2 linked regions of the Homo sapiens genome follow. The protein of the gene in region 1 purifies or fractionates together with the protein of each later gene. This does not show direct contact. Each region holds a gene or a part of one and is shown on either strand. Other genes may lie near its edges.

Region 1 (3,500 bases):
AGAGAAGAACTGGGAGAGACGGGATTTGACCCACAAATATTTGAAGATCTTATTCACTGATTAACCGTTGGGTTAGAGTGAACCTCAAATTACTGCTTTATTTTTTCTGATTAGGATAATGCTTCAAAGTGTTTGTTTATCCTTTCAGTAGATAGTAAAAAACAAATATAAATAAATAAATAACAAACTATTTGTTTAAAGAAATTAAATAATACAGAAGTGTCTGAAGCAGTGAGTCTCCTCTAATTTCCATTACCTCAAAAATAAGTGTTGACAGTTTAGGTTATATCCTTACAGATTTTCTCTATAGATGTCTGAATTTTTATTATTATTGTTATAATTATTAATAACACACTGCCTAATGGAATAATTCTCCACATGTTCTTCGACAACTTGCTTTATTCATTTAACAGCATATCTGGGACATTTCTCCATGTTAGTACCTCTTAAAGTATCTCGTTCTTTGTAGTATTCAATTTTATGACTGTACCTCTGGTTATTTAACCCCAGGACTTTTAAGATGCCTGCCAGTTTTTGCTATTACAGGCACTTCTACTGTGAATAGTCTAGTAAATATGTAATTCTGCACTTCTCTGAGTCTATCTGTAGGATGAATTTCTAACAGTGGGTTGCTTGGGCCAGAGAGTCAGCATACTTTAAAGTCTGGTATACACTGCCAGACTTCCCTCCAGGAGGGGACCAGCTTACCCTTCCTGCAGAAAGTGATTGAGCAAGTCCTTGTCAGTAGGAGACATTACTAAGTACATGTCGAGTATCCCTTATATGAAGTGCTTGGAACCAGAAGTATTTCACATTTCAGATTTTTTCAGATTTTGAAATATTTATATTATACTTAGTGGTTGAGCATCCTTAATCTGAAAACCCAAAATCCGAAATACCCCAATGAGCATTTCCTTTGAGCATCATGTTGGCCTTCAAAAAGTTTAGGATTTTAGGGCCGGGTGAAGTAGCTCACTCCTGTAATCCCAGTACTTTGGGAGGCCGAGGCGGATCACCTGAGGTCAGGAGTTCAAGATCAGCTTGGCCAACATGGTGAAACCCCGTCTCTACAAAAATACAGAAAAATTAGCCAGGCGTGGTGGCACACACCTGTATTTCCAGCTACTCAGGAGGCTGAGGCAGGAGAATCACTTGAACCCAGGAGGCAGAGGTTGCAGTGAGCTGAGATCGCACCACTGCACTCCAGCCTGGGTGATAGACTGAGACCCCATCTAAAAAAAAAAAAAAAGTTTAGGATTTTACAGCATTTCAGATTTCAGATTTCTAGATTAGGGATGCTCAACCTGTAGTAGTTTTATCTAGCCTTCTTCCTAGCTGACTACAGAGAATCCACTTATCCAAGATCTGAAGAATCCAATTTAGGTTGGTTGTTCTCTAGACATTGCTTTATTATTTTGCAGCATTCAGTGTTCCTGACAGGTGTCTGCTTTTCATTCCTTTCCAAGTAATCTACTTTCCTCTCTGCAAGGTTATCTTGGTGTTCTTTTTTTTTTTTTTTTAAATTATTAGACAGGGTATCACTCTGTCACCCAGGCTGGAGTATAGTAGCATGATCATAGCCCACTGTAACCTCAAACTCCTGGGCTCAAGCAATCCTCCTGCCTCAGCCTCCCAAGTAGCTAGGACTGCAGGCATGTGCCACCACACCCAGCTAATTTTTTAAATTATTTGTAGAGACAGGGTCTCACTATATTGCCCAGACTGGTCTCGAACTCCTGACCTCAAGTGTCCTCCCACTGCAGCCTCTCAAAGCACTGAGATTACAGGCATGAGCCACTGTACCTAGCCTTGATGTTCTAAACTTTTACCCTGGCCTTTTCACTCTGTTTAATAGTAGGTAGACATTTTACATCTGAAGATTCATGCTTTTCTTAAACTCTTGGAAATTATTTTCTATTAGATCTTTGATAATTTCTTCTTTGTTTTCTCTGTTCTCTTTCTAGGACTTCTGTTAGTCAGATGTTAGACTTCCTGGGTTGATCCTCTATGTCTCTCTCTTTTTTATTATTTATTTATTTATTTATTTATTTATTTTTTTTGAGACAAGGTCTTGCTCTGTTGCCCAGACTGGAGTACAGTGGCACAAATACGACTCACTGCAGCCTCGACCTCCCGGGCTCAAGCAATCCTCATGCCTCAGCCTCCTGAGTAGCTGGGACCACAGGTGCACACCAGCATACCCAGCTAATTTTTTAATCTTTTGTAGAGATGGGGTCTCACCATGTTGCCCAGGCTTCTTATTTTTTATCTTATGTTTTCTGTCTCTTTTTTCTTTTGCTGTGACCTGGGAGATTTTGTCAACTTTATCTTCAAGCCCTTCTGTTGAATTATGTATTTAGATATCCTGTTAAACTCCAAAAGCTCTTTCTTCCTCTCTGTTTCTATGTCCTCTCATACCTGATCTTGTTTTTATAGAGTATGGATTAGAAGTGCCGGCTGGGTGCGGTGGCTCATGCCTGTAATCCCAGCACTTTGGGAGGCCGAGGTGAGTGGATCACTTGAGGCCAGGAGTTCGAGACCAGTCTGGCCAACATGGTGAAACCCCATCTCTACTAAAAATACAAAAATTACCCAGACGTGATGGTGCGCACCTGTAATCCCAGCTACTCAGGAGGCTGAGGCAGGAGAATCGCTTGAACCCAGGAGGCGGAGGTTGCAGTGAGACAAGATCATGCCACTGCACTCCAGCCTGGGCGATAGAGGGAGACCCTGTCTCAAAAAAGGAAGTGCCTTAAGTTTCTTCTGTTGTCTGAGTTATGTCTCTTTATTCTGAGGCTGGTTGAATTATTTTTTTCTTGGTCCTTCTCTTTTATGCTGATGGTTTTCCTCAAATGTCTAGCAATCCTTATTTGGCTATTTATACCCAAGAATGAAGGCCCATTGTAGGGGGCTGTCAGAGGACTACTCTGCTGCAGTGTTTGTAGGTCTGTTTTCCTGAAAGGCATTTCCCCAGAATGGGGACAGGGAATGTCCACTGACAGGTTGCAACTTTAGCGAGTGTGGGCAAGGACCCGGGCATTAGATGGGATCCTGCCAGATGTCAGAACAAAGGAGGCCTCTTCTTTGGGGTAACATCTCTTTTTTCCCTCAGCCTTTCCAAAGTGTATCTGTTGTACTTATCTTTTCCAGTGTAGCTTTGGGCTTTGTTGGTCATCTCTACTGTTTTATTATGGTGGGTTTTTAATACTTCATTAATTTTTCTGGTTTTATCTTTATTAATGTTTTCCTCCGACGTTCTTTATTTTGTTCATTTCTGGCTTCTGGAATTTAATGCTTCAACATTTATCAACTCATTGGCCGATCTCATTTCATCTATACCTGTACCCACTGCCCTCTTCCTGTTTTCCTTCAAAGCTAATCCCAGATACCATATAATTTCTCCTGTAAATATTTCAGAATGCATCTCTAAAACATAAGTACACTTTTTTAGAAAAGCATTACCTTAGTATCAATACCTGAAAATTAACAATAATTATTTT
Region 2 (3,935 bases), on another chromosome or scaffold:
CTAAAGTCTAACTGGGGCTTTTCAACTCTGCATCTCCAGTTCTGTTTTTGTTTTAAATCGAGACGGGGTTTCACCATGTTGCTTGGGCTGGTATCAAACTTCTGAGCTCACGCAATCAGCCCACGCTGGCGTCCCAAAGTGCTGGGATTACACACGTGAGCCACCGAGCGTGGCAAACTCCATCTTTCTTGGTGCTAGATACTGACATACCTGCTGTGTCCCTGGATAAAGAAGCGGACCCCAATTCCCATTAAGCCCCCGTGGTACCATTTTCAAGTCCGAGGTCTTACGTTGCAGATTGTACATCCAGGTTCCCTGACCCGTAGGATTTAAAAGTGAGGTCAAATAATTAAACAAATTGTTTTAGTCAGACACTCTTGCGGCTACTCTGTAGCCAAACTGGGTGAAAACCTGACCAGAGGAGTCCACGGCCCTCTGTACATCAAAGACGGTCCAAACGTCTCACTGTTTAGCTCAGTCCCAGACACACTGAGCTCAATCTGCACGAATCAGCGAGGTCCAGGGCAGATAACATGTGTCTAGGGGCCTGGACTTGCACAAAAAGCCTTAACAACTTCACAATTTGATTAATTATGCCGCCTTGGACCACGCGTGAAAAACAGCAAGACCCAAGGCCTATGCTATTGGTCTGGGGACTAGACCCACCTGGCTCAAGCATTTTTTGCTCGCCACGTTCCCAAAAAGAGAAGAGGCGCCCGTAAGAGGGGGGGGGGGGGGGGCAAGACTGTTCCAAGAGCTTTCCCGTTCACACACAGCTCCCGCTGGGTCACTGTACTCGAGCCCTTCCCGCCCTCGCGGGCCCAGGCGGCCACCCCACAGGTTTGGGAACCCTAGGACTTGCAGTGCTCCTGGGCCATGCCCCACCAGCCGGAGACTTCCGCACTCTCAGGCTCGCTGAGTGGAGAAAAGGGCTCCAGAAGATTCCACGAGCGCCGGGAAGCCGCGCTAGCACCAACACCCACAAGGCCTTTCGGCGCAGCTCCTCCCGACCCGTGCGCCCCCGCGCCGTTGCCCAGGTAACGGCGGGGCGGTGGCAGCGGCCGAGAAGGGCGGGACTTCCGGCGGGTGACGCGCCCGGGTTCGGCTACAAAAGAGGACGGCTGCGGCGCGCCGGGCGGAACTTTCCAGAACGCTCGGTGAGAGGCGGAGGAGCGGTAACTACCCCGGCTGCGCACAGCTCGGCGCTCCTTCCCGCTCCCTCACACACCGGCCTCAGCCCGCACCGGTGAGTTTGAGCCCTCGCGCTGCCCCTAGTCCCCTGGCTGGCGCCATTGGCGCCGGGAAACCGATGGAGCCGCGGTCGGGAGGCAGTTGGCCGCGTGGGTAGGACCGCTGTCAGTTCCTGGGCCCACGATTTCCCTTTTGGAGGGCTGGTGTGGTGCCCTGGCAACCCATCCCCGGCACGCACAGTGAATGGGCCCGAGACCTTTCCTAGACCTCCCTCCTTCCCCAGCCTGGGATCTCCAAGGAGCTACTGTCTTCGGCTGCCCCTCCGTGCGCGCCCCCGCGGCCCCCCTCCCCGTCCGTGCTCGCTCGGGGTGGGGGGGGGGAGTGGGGTTGGCGACCCTGCGCACGCGCACAGGGAGGCAGGGGCGAGGGGCTGCGGGGGGAGCCGGGCGGAGACTGCGGCTTTTGGTTTCGCTTTCTCTGTTTCCCCTCCCTTTGTTTGTTGAGGGCTGGGCTTTCCCCACCGCCACTTGGGTCCAGGGTGGGAGGGAGAAAGGAAGGAAATCGGTCAGCGCCAAGTGCAAGGGGAAACCTGGCAGGTAAACTCTGCCAGCCTGAGGGGCGAGAGGGATTCGGCTGGAGAAGCTGTAAGCCGTGGGCGGTGGAGGGCTTGCTGTGTGGAGCCAGTAACCTGTTCTATAAACCACTCCCCCCCACCACTGTGTGCCCAGACGTCTTTTTCTGGAGAGTATATGGAGTTTATCAGATTTGCCAAAGACAGTGATAGTGTAATGACCGGTAGACTGAACATATCAGTGCTTCTTTTGGTTACAACTGTCACCGCCTCTAGGGCAAACGGGAAGAATCCAGATAATAGTTGTGTTATATTAGTATGGAAGCTTTGGTGTAGGAAAATTGGAACCAGCTGCTAGAAGGCGGCTCTCAGATTATTTCCCGATAATGATTATTTGTTTTGTCTGTTCGAGTTTATAGCTGAATTATCGCAGGAATTGTTACCTTTTTGGTGAAATTTAGGGAAGGTGGTGTTCTTATAATCGGATTTTGCAAAGAGATTGCTCGGCCTTAGCTCTCTTTTTTATTAAAAGCTACCAGTTGAAAGCCGGTTAAAGTTGCATTTTCTTATTTCAGGCAGTAGAAGATGGTGAAAGAAACAACTTACTACGATGTTTTGGGGGTCAAACCCAATGCTACTCAGGAAGAATTGAAAAAGGCTTATAGGAAACTGGCTTTGAAGTACCATCCTGATAAGAACCCAAATGAAGGAGAGAAGGTGAATAGTATCTACTCTTAAACGTATCTGAATAGTTCTTTGCCAGACGTATAGTATTTCTATTATGGCCTGAAATCGAGTATCTAATATAGTAACTATGATCACTTCTCGGCCTTTTTAGCTAAGATCAAGTGTAATGTAGCTAGGTAACACTTGTTTTTTAAAAAATGAAATTCACTCCTCTTTTCTCAAACAGTTTAAACAGATTTCTCAAGCTTACGAAGTTCTCTCTGATGCAAAGAAAAGGGAATTATATGACAAAGGAGGAGAACAGGCAATTAAAGAGGGTGGAGCAGGTGGCGGTTTTGGCTCCCCCATGGACATCTTTGATATGTTTTTTGGAGGAGGAGGAAGGATGCAGAGAGAAAGGAGAGGTAAGAAGAATCTAGTCTTTGTGCAGCTAACTAAAGTTAGCTGTTGGTCAGAGCAGATCTTTGAGAAATCACCCATTTTAAATGCTTGTTTACATGTTGGTATAATGTTGCAAACTGACCACAAATTGCCTCTGATTTATGGTGTCGTGTTTTTTTGTTGTGGTTTTTTTTTTTTTTTTCTTGAGACGGAGTTTCCCTCTTATTGCCCAGGCTGGAGAGCCATGGCGTGGTCTCAGCTCACAGCAACCTCCACCTCCCGGGTTCAAGCGATTCTCCTGCCTCAGCCTCCCAAGTAGCTGGGATTACAGGCATGTGCCACCAAACCCGGCTAATTTTGTATTTTTAGTAGAGATGGGGTTTCACCATGTTGGTCACGCTGGTCTTGAACTGCAAACCTCAGGTGGTGATCCACCTGCCTTGGCCTCCCAGAGTGCTGGGATTACAGGTGTGAGCCACCATGCCCAGCCAGTGGTGTCGCTTTTTTTAAAATGAGATTTAAGGGGCCTAAAAAATAGCCAACAGAGTGGTAGCAAATGACTGCTTCCAAAAATCTTAGATATTATCAAACAAATTATGAGAACAGGCCGCGTGCTGTGGCTCATTCTGTAATCCCAGCACTTTGGGAGGCCGAGGTGGGTGGATCACTGAGGTCAGGGTTCGAGACCAGCCTGGCCAAGATGGTGAAACCCCATCTCTACAAAACTACAGAATTAGCTGGGCGTGGTGGTGGGCATCTGCAATCCCAGCTCCTCTGGAGGCTGAGGCAGGAGAATCGCTTGAACCCTGGAGGCAGAGGTTGCAGCGAACGGAGGTCACGCCACTGCACTCCAGCCTGGGCAACAAGAGTGAATCTCTGTCACAAAAAACCCAAAAAAATCCAAAAATTAGCCAGGCATGGTGGTGCGTGCCTGTAATCCCAGTTACTCAGGAGGGCTGAAGCAGGAGAGTCGCTTGAACCCGGGAGGTGGAGGTTGCAGTGAGCTGAGATCGCCCAATTACACTCCAGCCTGAGCAACACAGCGAGACTCTTGTCTCAAAAAAAAAAAAAAAAAAAAAAAAAGACAAAGTATATAGCAATATAA

What was found. Proteins that work in one complex are often made in the same cells at the same time.
Region 2: the proteins of HDAC6 (region 1) and DNAJA1 purify together in Homo sapiens (affinity purification with mass spectrometry; 4 studies listed by BioGRID and IntAct, with this or other methods). This does not show direct contact.

What each region holds. Positions count from the first base shown.
Region 1 is NC_000023.11:48,808,567-48,812,066, forward strand, and holds part of HDAC6 (protein deacetylase HDAC6), read left to right. Parts: intron 1-3,500.
Region 2 is NC_000009.12:33,024,138-33,028,072, forward strand, and holds the start of DNAJA1 (dnaJ homolog subfamily A member 1), read left to right. Parts: upstream 1-1,135; 5' UTR 1,136-1,246; intron 1,247-2,337; 5' UTR 2,338-2,347; coding exon 2,348-2,479; intron 2,480-2,675; coding exon 2,676-2,853; intron 2,854-3,935.